Homo sapiens: one gene and its partners. The protein of the gene in region 2 purifies or fractionates together with the protein of the main gene of each other region. This does not show direct contact. Each region holds a gene or a part of one and is shown on either strand. Other genes may lie near its edges.

Evidence for each region.
Region 1: the proteins of PLS3 (region 2) and PRRC2C fractionate together in Homo sapiens (co-fractionation; one large-scale study listed by BioGRID). This does not show direct contact.
Region 3: the proteins of PLS3 (region 2) and GART fractionate together in Homo sapiens (co-fractionation; one large-scale study listed by BioGRID). This does not show direct contact.

Annotation. Positions count from the first base shown.
Region 1 is NC_000001.11:171,589,973-171,593,627, forward strand, and holds the end of PRRC2C (protein PRRC2C), read left to right. Parts: intron 1-1,179; coding exon of another isoform or gene 1,180-1,232; intron 1,233-1,614; coding exon 1,615-1,875; 3' UTR 1,876-3,539; downstream 3,540-3,655. UniProt on the Homo sapiens protein: Required for efficient formation of stress granules.
Region 2 is NC_000023.11:115,641,044-115,644,698, reverse strand, and holds part of PLS3 (plastin-3), read right to left. Parts: intron 1,387-3,655; coding exon 1,191-1,386; intron 1-1,190. UniProt on the Homo sapiens protein: Actin-bundling protein.
Region 3 is NC_000021.9:33,503,975-33,507,629, reverse strand, and holds part of GART (trifunctional purine biosynthetic protein adenosine-3), read left to right. Parts: intron 1-1,525; coding exon 1,526-1,656; intron 1,657-1,927; coding exon 1,928-2,069; intron 2,070-3,102; coding exon 3,103-3,218; intron 3,219-3,314; coding exon 3,315-3,506; 3' UTR 3,507-3,655. UniProt on the Homo sapiens protein: Trifunctional enzyme that catalyzes three distinct reactions as part of the 'de novo' inosine monophosphate biosynthetic pathway.

The DNA of each region.
Region 1 (3,655 bases), on a different chromosome or scaffold from region 2:
CATTTTCTTTCTTTTTTTTTTTTTTTTTAATATATATTTTCTTCCCCCCTTTCCCCTGACTCTCCTCCTCCCAGCAGCTTAAAATGTAAATCATGGTTATATGAAAACTCTGGAATGGGTAAGATGTGTTACTATCTTAGTACTTTTTTCCATTATGAGTCATCAAAGTACAGTTTTCTTCTCAAACTGTTTTCATACCCTTATTGGCCTACCACATGAGGTGGTTGTATTCCACAGTGGATTGTGCAGTTATAGATGAAGAACTCAGAAAAGCACTTTGGGATCCTTCATGATGAAAGGCACTGATAAACATGAGGTTTGCTAATGCAGAAAGAGTGCCTTTAGGAGTCTGTGTGGGGACAGTTTTGTAGCATAAACCTTACATGTCTGCCAGTACAGCCAGTTGAATCCGTTTATTTCTATATTTACTTTAGGCTTGACTTTCAGGGATCTTAGTAATTTTTGCCTGTTTTGTCACTACATATGTCATCAGATCAGACTAGAACAAAGAAAAGCTTACTGCTTTCAAACAGGGAAATGTGCATAGTAATGCTTTACTCTGAATTAGAAACATGTTTATGATAATCCTATTAGAAAATTTGATTGATTGATTAAAGTGTCTTTTTGGGTCGACATCCCTAGTGTTTCTGATCCTGAGTAATCAAATTTAAAGACTACCCAGCAGCAAAACTTTTATTAAATAATTATCTACTTTTATTAAGGCTGTATGCCTAGGATTTCCATCTGTTTGTTATAATTAGAAATACCAGTGTGAGTAAAAATCTTAGGAAGTTATTTGGCCTTGGATTCCAGTTCTACTCCTGGCTCCTTGGCTCTTGATTTTCGCATATTCCCATGTTGGAAATAACATTAGAGCTTAATAGTAGTAATGGGGTGGGAGAGGGTACAAACTTCTTGAAAATTGCTTCAGATCTTTGGATAGTACAGGTTACCTATAGAACATAAAGCATTTTTTTAATATGCAAGAAGGATGGAAACTTAAGTTTTAATTGTGAATGTTACAGTGGTAAAATTTACAGATTTGACGTAAGTATATTTTTGGGGGCACATAGTCAAAACTAAGAAATTATTTACCAGCTCAGAATGTGGTAGGAGCTATCAGAACTTAGTGATCAAGTGAAGTCGTAGTTACTAATTTCTGATGCTCTTCCCCTGCAGAAGAGAGCTGTGGGAAGAGGACTCAGCCACAAGACATTTGGTCCTAGGTGTTGGTAATGCCACAATATAAGTGCTTCCTTTTCATTTTATTGTAGACCACATATTGATAACTAGAAGTTTTAAGTGTTACATGTATGTTTTTAGATTTGCAAGCAGGTTCCCTAAATAAAATTTAATATGAGAGGGCAGACCTTGAAAAGGTGGTGGGAGGTGGTCCTGTGGTTTTTTTTTTTTTTTTAAATCACATGAAATATTTCAAAAATAGGAAGAAATCTATTCATTAAAAGCTCAAAGATCAATGAGGTACTTTTGGCTTTGGCCAAACCAGTGTGGGGAAAACTGATTTGTGATTGGTAAAAGAATTTGAACCAAGATTGATTTGACAGGCTTTGGTAATGCTGCAGTATTTTCAGTTGTTCTTTCTCATTTTTTAAGGCAAAGCAGAGAGCAGAGGTTCTTCAGTCCACGCAACGGTTCTTCTCTGAACAGCAACAGAGCAAACAGATAGGAGGAGGCAAAGCCCAGAAAGTGGACAGTGATTCAAGTAAACCTCCTGAAACACTGACCGACCCTCCTGGGGTCTGTCAGGAAAAAGTAGAAGAAAAGCCACCCCCTGCACCCTCCATAGCCACCAAACCTGTTAGAACTGGACCAATCAAACCTCAGGCGATCAAAACCGAAGAAACAAAATCTTAAAGGCTATGGTTTATTGCAGGGGATTGGGAGGGGGGCGGGAAAACATGGAGAATTAAGTCAGATAATGCTGGCAGCCAAAGGGGCAAAATGGCCTGTGACATTATCCTGTTCAGAGCTTGGAGATGTACAAGGGACATAGGAGCAATTTACACTGACACACAGCTGCTGTACCAGTGAAAACGAGGCTTTGCAAGCTTGTACCTACTATATAACATGTGCTTGGTTGATGGCCATGCATCTTCAGTCAGAATTTATATATAAATGTATGCACCCATTTTTTTGAGTGCATATAATTTAGACCTAAAAATCCTTATGATTAGATGAAACACCAAAAATATAAGGAAAATAACACAGCAGAGGAATAGCTCAGCCTGAACAGTGTGATGGTCCCAGCTACTACATCAGATGCGGTTTTTTTGCTCCCTTATGTTCTTCGGATATGGTTATGGCATTTGTAGGCTTGGAGGTAAAGAACTGAAGATAACTGGTGCTGGATAGAGGAGCCTTATTTTTTATTATGGCAGCTTGCTATTTTTATAACATGGTGATTGAGTTGAACACAATCAAAGTACAGTAGTAACTGATGTCCCCTTCTTCCTGGATGAATGAGCAGATAAATATTGATGTCAGCATCCTTGAACCATATCAAAGTGAGCAGTGTTTGGCTACTGCTTCTATTTGAAATGGTGCTGTGTTTTGGTTGTGGTCTGAAGCTTTGAAGCGCTACTTAGCATCTCCTTTCTTCCATGGAGCTCTCACGATTCAAACATGACAGATTTGGTAAAATGCTGGTTAGGTTGAGTCTTCCTTGCCCCCACTCAGTCATCTTTGTATGAATCCCATGATTTGGGGGTTTTTTTCTTTTTTTTTTTATACCAGTTTTTAGCTGGTGTTTATGAAGAACAGTGAGTACCTAGAACTGTGCCACTAATTAAAGGAAATCCTAAGAAGGTGCATTTCTTTACAGAGCTGTGTCATGCCATCCTTTGGGCCCTCTGCTGGAAAAGTAGAATCAAGTCTCAAATAATGCCTTTTTAATTGTATCCTCTAGTATTATAGATATAGGACAGTACTGTATCATACCTCTGTGAATGTAAAATATCTTGTACCTGCTTTATGATACGTAGTAGTGACCGTGCTTTATCAGAGCTGTTTTTAATGATGTTATTCTAGAATGTTTTCTTTCCAGATGATGATTCAGAAGCTAATTTTAAAAAACGGTGCCAGGTACCACAACAGTAACAGAACTTTGCAATTTTCTGGGGTTTTGTTTTTTACCTTTTTCCCCCCTTTTTTTTAAATGGAGTGTGCTGGATGTCTCTATAATTTTATTCAGATGACTGCAGAACCTGGAAAAGCTGTTGCTGCTATTGATGCATAACATACTGCTATTGGTCTTTTTATATAAATATATATATATATATACATATATATATATAATTTGAATTTTTGGAAACTTTAGCTGTGCTGTCAACTTTGGAAAAAGTATCCCGGTTTACTGTGTTGAGTTGGCATTGTACAGAAATTAACAGCCATATTGGTCTAGAAACGTTAAACTTAATTTTTTTCCATTTGTACAGGGGTAACGCACTGTATTAAATATGTAAGGTCTTATCTACATGGGTTTGATTACAGAAACTAATAAAGTATTCTCTAAATAATGATTCTTGGAGCTTATAATCATTTCCTAAAATCTGAAGCAAGAGGGTTTGTCATGTATTAAAAATAGTGGTCAAGAGTACTGGCCAGTCGCAGTGGCTCATGCCTGTAATCCTAGCAC
Region 2 (3,655 bases):
TGTTATCAGTTAAGTTACTGGTTTTATAGAAATATCAGTGGACACTCAATGAATTACTATTTGCATTATTTATTTATTTATTTATTTATTTATTTATTTTTGAGATGGAGGTTTGCTCTTGTTGCCTAAGCTGGAGTGCAATGGCACGATCTCAGCTCACTACAACCTCTGCCTCCCAGGTTCAAGGGATTCTCCTGCTTCAGCCTCCCGAGTATCTGGATTACAGGTGCGCACCACAATGCCTGCCTAATTTTTTGTATTTTTAGTGGAAACGGGGTTTCACCATGTTAGCCAGGCTGGTCTCGAACTCCTGACCTTAGGTGATCTGGCCACCTTGGCCTCCCAAAGTGCTGGGATTACAGTCGTGAGCCACCGCGCCTGGCTGCATTTCTTAATTTTTATAGACTACGCTTCACACATATATAATCTGGAAAAGGTAAACTCTGCCTTTCCAAAACTTAAAAAAAAATTAGTATATATTATCATTTGTTTCTTGAGGAGGTAAAGGTGAAAGGAGTTGGGGTTAGTTCCAGTTACATTGACTGTGGATGAATGAAACATAAATATATGCTAAATTTACAGGTCAAACTGAATGCATATGTGCACTTTTTCCTGGTGAGAGGATTAAAAAGTGGTCTAACCCTAAATATTAAAACTAAATACTGATTTACTAAGTGGCTTTACATTAAGCGACTCGACTACTTTTTATTTTTTTTATTTATTTTTTGAGATGGAGTCTTACTCTGTTGCCCAGGCTGGAGTGCAATAGCGCGATCTCGGCTCACTGTAACCTCCGTCTCCCAGATTCAAGTGATTCTCCTGCCTCAGCCTCCCGAGTAGCTGGGATTACAGGCATGTGCCACCACGCCCCAGCTAATTTTTTAATTTTTCGTAGAGACGGGGTTTCACCATGTTGGTCAGGCTGGTCTCAAACTACTGACCTCAGGTGATCCGCCCATGTCGGCCTCCCAAAGTGCTGGGATTACAGCTGTGAGCCACCGTGCCCGGCCTCGACTACTTTACTTTAAAAGTTCACTTGTATCGTACTTTCCTGCCAGTTTTTACTCAGCATCTGCCATCTACTTCTTGTAGATATAAAAAAACTTATTAAGTCTAGATTGTAAAATCATTGTGGCCTATGTATTTCTACTCTATAGTCCCACACATTCGAAATTGAGGTTTTTAGTTACCTTCTAATAGAGTCCAGTCAATATCCTGGTTCTCTGGCTTAGTTAGTGCTGGGTATTTATTAAACAGGTTAGCCACGAAAGCTAAGTTGAGTTTGGGGTTTCCACTGACAACATCAGCAGGGGTAACAAACTGTCTGCAACCTAATTTATCTGCTTGTTGAAGCATACTCTCAGCTCTCTTCAAATCATCTGTTTCCTGTTGAAACAAAATCGGAAGACTTTGTCAAAGGCCACACTAAAAATATAGAAAATTTCCCCACTGTCATAGTCTGGGTATACAGTTCTACTTTCTTTTAGCTAACATATGGTACTTATTATAAAATTGTTTTGAATGCAAAAAAAAAGGTTGGCCCTCTTGGAGATGCAGTACCTGTAATATACACTAGATGGCGCCAGATCACACAGCAAACTACTGAGTACATTTAACTAAATTGCATTAAGAAAGAAGTTACGTAAAAGGTTGGGGGAAACTCCCAGATTTTGTTTGAAAATCTGTAGAGAAAAATATACATTCACCATCTTCACTTTCTCTGGTTCCACTTTTCCTTTTTTCCTTCTCAATAGGAAAACAGCTTCAATTGTCCTTTTAAGCCACCTCAAGTTAAATATTCAGATATTTTCAGTAGAATTATGTTAAAATTTTTTTTCAAATGTACTTTATCTACAATGAATCTCAATTAATTATTAAATGTGAAAGGGTATTAACTGTAGTCCTACTTAAGTCTCCTTTAGAAAATGGTGTTCATTTTCTGTAAATTGTGGGTTCATTCTCTTCAACCTGGCTTATTTTATTTTATTTTGCTGATTTACTACTTTCTGCTTTGGAGTTTCTCCTTTTTTCTACTGGCTCTCAGCTGAACTTCACTGAGGCTTCTGGGTACTGTGCATTAAGTCAATGAGCTTCATGACAGAGTGGACTCCTTGGAACCCTGGAACCTCTGGGGCTGTGTTATGCAGCAGAAGGAACTAGAAAGGAGGGCACTGCTGGAGAGCGAGCTAGAGAGAGAGGAAGTTGTGCTGAGCTGTGGAAGTAGGCTTCCCTGGCTGAGGGAGAAGACAGACACCTTCATTCATGTCATGCTCAAATCCCAAGGGAAATGCTTGTGAACTGTTGCTTGAATTGAAGAGAAGCAGAGAATCTATTTCCACTGATTTCTTTTGAGCGTAGGGAGAATGGTGGAAGGCAAGACCAAGGATTAATCTCAGGGAATTGAAGGATTAAAAAAGTTAGGACGAAAGGAAGGGATTTTTTCCATTACAAAGACGAAGAGAAAAAAGTTAAATTGAAATAAAAAACAGGTAAAACTGTTCAGAGTTAAAATTAGGCCTTGGTTGGACGTGGTGGCTCACGCCTGTAATCCCAGCACTTTGGGAGGCCGAGGCAGAAGGATTGCTTGAGCCCAGGAGTTCGAAACCAGCCTGGCCAACATGGCGAAACCTCGTCTCTTAAAAAAAAAAAAAAAAAAAAAAGACCCTAAAGAAGGTGTAAAGCTGAAAAAGATGAAGGACACTGAAAACCATGAGAACAGCATGAGCAAAGGCACCTGGGTGGTGGTGGGAAGGAAGGTTGGGGTGGGGAACACAGACTTTTGGGGAAATAACACTGGCTAGATTTTAGAGCAAGATTTGTAGGGTGAGTGCCAAGCAGAACATTTCAGACTGAATTCTAGAGTCAACAGAAGAATCCTTGTCGGATTCTGAAGAGGGAAGAGACAAAAGAGTGTTTTAAGATCAATTGGAAAGGATTGACTAGAGAAGGGGTGTATCAGAATCGGTTAGCATACTGATGCCATTTACCCTGGTATCAGATCACATGGCTAGCCAACCCAGACAGCTCCCTTCTTGGACAAGATGGCCCCTCATCCCTACCAAGAGTGACCTGAGCTGAAGAGTTTTGCATTTAACATACAGACAGAAATATAAGCACACAAGTCAGTTACAAATTCAGTTCTGATAAGGGCAGCATAAAAATGGTTTAGCCACGTAAGGCACGGTGGCTCACACCTGTAATCCCAGCACTTTGGGAGGCCGAGGCGAGTGGATCACCTGAGGTCAGGAGTTCAAGACCAGCCTGGCCAACATGGTGAAACCCCATCTCTACTAAAAATATAAAACTAGCTGGGCATGGTGGTGGGCGCCTGTAATCGCAGCTACTCGGGAGGCTGAGGCAGGAGAATTGCTTGAACCCAGGAGATGGAGGTTGCAGTGAGCCGACACGGTGCCACTGCACTCCAGCCTCAGCAACAGAGTGAGACTCTGTCTCAAAAAAAAAAAAAAAAAAAAGAAAGAGAAGAAAAATGGTTTAGCCAATGTAATCCACTCCATCCTATGGCATAATAGGCTAGATATGTGGATTTTGTTAATTAGTAGCATGCATTCCATATCTAATGGGTACAAAAACCACAGATTCCTAGAAACTTGGGACTAAATAGTTCACTCTAACTCCTTACTTTATGGATGAACAA
Region 3 (3,655 bases), on a different chromosome or scaffold from region 2:
GGCTGGTCTTGAACTCTTGACCTCAGTATGATCCGCCTGCCTTGGCCTCCCAAAGTGCTGGGATTATAGGTGTGAGCCACCACATCCAGCCTCTTCCAGTTATTTTAAAATGTGTAATAAATTATTGTTGACTATAGTCACCCTGTTATGCTATCAAACACTAGATTTTGTTCATTCTAACTATATTTTTGTACCCATTAGCATCCCCTCTCCCCGTCTCTCCCACTACCCTTCCTAGCCTCTGGTAACCATCATTGCACTATCATCATGAGTTCAACTGTTTTAATTTTTAGCTCCCACAAATAAGTGAGAACATGTGAGGTTTGTCTTTCTGTGCCTGACTTATTTCACTTAACTTAATGACCTCCCGTTCCATCCATGTTGTTGCAAATGACAGGATCTCATCTTTTTTATGGCTGAATAGTACTCCATTGTGTGATGTACCACATTTTCTTTATCCATTTGTCTGCTGATAAACATTTAGGTTGCTTCCAAATCTTGGCTAGGGAGAATAAACATGAAACTGCAGGTATCTCTTTGATACACTGATTTTCTTTCTTTTGGGTATATACCTAGCAATGGGATTGCTGGATGATATGGTAGCTCTTTTTTTTAATTTTTGAGGACCCTTCAAACTGTTCTCCATAATAATTGTACTAATTTACCTTCCCAATAGTGTGTGACGGTTCCCTTTTCTCCACATCTTCGCCAGCGTGTTATTGCCTGTGTTTTGGATAAAAGCCATTTTAACCGGGGCGAGACAATATGTCATAGTTTTGATTTGCATTTCTCTGATGATAATGATGTTGAGCACCTTTTTATATACCTGTTTGCAATTTGTGTGTTTTCTTTTAAGAAATGTCTATTCAGATCTTTTGCCCATTTTTAATCAGAGTATTAGATTTTTCCCTAATGAATTGTTTAAGCTCCTTATATATTCTGGTTATTAATCCCTTGTCAGATGGGTAGTTTGCACATATTTTCTACCATTCTGTGGGTTGTCTCCTTACTTTGTTGATTGTTTCCATTGCTATACAGAAGCTTTTTCCATATTTACTTTAGTTGCCTGTGCCAAGAGAAAGGGAATTTAGAAGCCTCACATATCACCAGTCTTTTCCAAGACATTTATTCAGAAAATTTGACTGTCCCCTATTCAAAATGGCACATCTCTTTTTTTAAAAAGTGTGAGGTTGGGCGCGGTGGCTCATGCCTGTAATCCCAAATTTGGGAGGCCGAGGTGGGCGGATCACCTGATGTCAGGAGTTCCAGACGAGCCTGGCCAACGTGGTGAAACCCCATCTCTACTAAAAATACAAAAATTAGCCAGGTGTGGTGGTGGGCTCCTGTAATCCCAGCTACTCAGGAGGCTGAGGCAGGATAATTGCTTGAACCCGGGAGGTGGAGGTTGCAGTGAACCCAGATCGTGGCACTGCACTCCTAGCCTGGGCGACAGAGTGAGACTCCCTCTCAAAAAAAAAAAAAGAAGTAGTAGTATGAGCTCACTGCTGTTTTTCTCCCTTCTCAGGATCGAACCTGCAAGCACTTATAGACAGTACTCGGGAACCAAATAGCTCTGCACAAATTGATATTGTTATCTCCAACAAAGCCGCAGTAGCTGGGTTAGATAAAGCGGAAAGAGCTGGTATTCCCACTAGAGTAAGTTACTTGGGAAAATATCTTTGCTGTGGGCCATATTTAAGCTCGTAATCTGCCCTCACAGGACCCTGGTCTATGGGCACTTGTTCTTGGGACTTCGCCATTTTGGGTGGGTGCTGGGCTTGCCTTCTTCATCCTGTCCCTTTCTTAATAATCTCTCTATCAGGTATATCTTTACAAGGAAGTGAAGTATGGTCTGTGTAAAGGTTGAGTTTTTAATTATTTTTGGTAATTCATTGAAAAGGGTTGTGCTTATCTTTTTCTATTACAGGTAATTAATCATAAACTGTATAAAAATCGTGTAGAATTTGACAGTGCAATTGACCTAGTCCTTGAAGAGTTCTCCATAGACATAGTCTGTCTTGCAGGATTCATGAGAATTCTTTCTGGCCCCTTTGTCCAAAAGTGGAATGGTAAGCAAAAATTATTTGACATCACATTGGGAAATCAATTGAAAATGGTCTCCAGAACAGATAACTTGCCAAACAATCCCAGTAGTGAACACCCATCCCAGAAATCCAACTCCTGTTTGACTGTGATATTTTATTAATACTTTAACACAGGTCACAGTTTAATTTCCTTTGTTTTACACTAAAGAATGACCCAATGATGATTTATTAACCTGCTCTCTATCCATTTACTTTGGCTTGCTGTAATTAATCACTTTTTCTAATGTAGCTTAGTTTTGTTTCACATTACTGCAAAGATAATATTTCATCTTTTGAATAAATATTCAGAAGACCTTCCTTTATTTGTTTGGAAGCAAAAGAGAGTGATTCCGTATATCCCAAAATGAAGAGTCCATCCTCTCTTAGGAAGCATAGACCATTGCCAGGAGTTGGCAAGGAGGAGGTTATTGCCAGAAAACACATACTATCTATGTTACTGCCTTCTTCCCAAAAGCCTTGACTGCATCCTGTTTGTGTATGTGTGCACACAGTTGGTCAATAAATGCATTTTCCCTCCAAAGAGTTTATGTATTCTTAGGTGAATGTAGTTAGAGCACTTGTGGTGTGATATAAAATAGACAATGCCTTTGGTGACATGAGCCACACAGAACTAATCTAGCATCTGTCTGGTGGACAGGTCACTTTGTGGTTAGAAGTCAAGCACATAGATGCTATGTAAGAACCTCTTGCTTATTTTTAATAGTACGTGCCAGCAACAAGCTGGTATTCAGCTTGAACTCCCCACCTTCCTGTCACCATGAATGTCTGTTCAGAGCACCCCAGCATGCCTTTAACTGTGCAAGGCGGGTACTTGCTGCTTCCAGGGCCTTCTTGGATGAGAACTTACTTTTACCTCATTTCTGTGTTTGGCAAAGAAAACATCCATCCCAGAAATCCAACTCCTGTTTGACTTCGGATCTAGATAGGAAAACGTATTCCTTTAACAGAATACCCAGGATTTTTAAATTCTGACCACTATGCTTTTTTTAATTTTTAGGAAAAATGCTCAATATCCACCCATCCTTGCTCCCTTCTTTTAAGGGTTCAAATGCCCATGAGCAAGCCCTGGAAACCGGAGTCACAGTTACTGGGTGCACTGTACACTTTGTAGCTGTGAGTATGTCTTTTTCTACCAACATAATATTAGTAGTCAGATGTAAATGACACTGGCTAGAAGGTAATGTTCAAAACTTTTGCTTACTTTTCCAGGAAGATGTGGATGCTGGACAGATTATTTTGCAAGAAGCTGTTCCCGTGAAGAGGGGTGATACTGTCGCAACTCTTTCTGAAAGAGTAAAATTAGCAGAACATAAAATATTTCCTGCAGCCCTTCAGCTGGTGGCCAGTGGAACTGTACAGCTTGGAGAAAATGGCAAGATCTGTTGGGTTAAAGAGGAATGAAGCCTTTTAATTCAGAAATGGGGCCAGTTTAGAAAGAATTATTTGCTGTTTGCATGGTGGTTTTTTATCATGGACTTGGCCCAAAAGAAAAACTGCTAAAAGACAAAAAAGACCTCACCCTTACTTCATCTATTTTTTTAATAAATAGA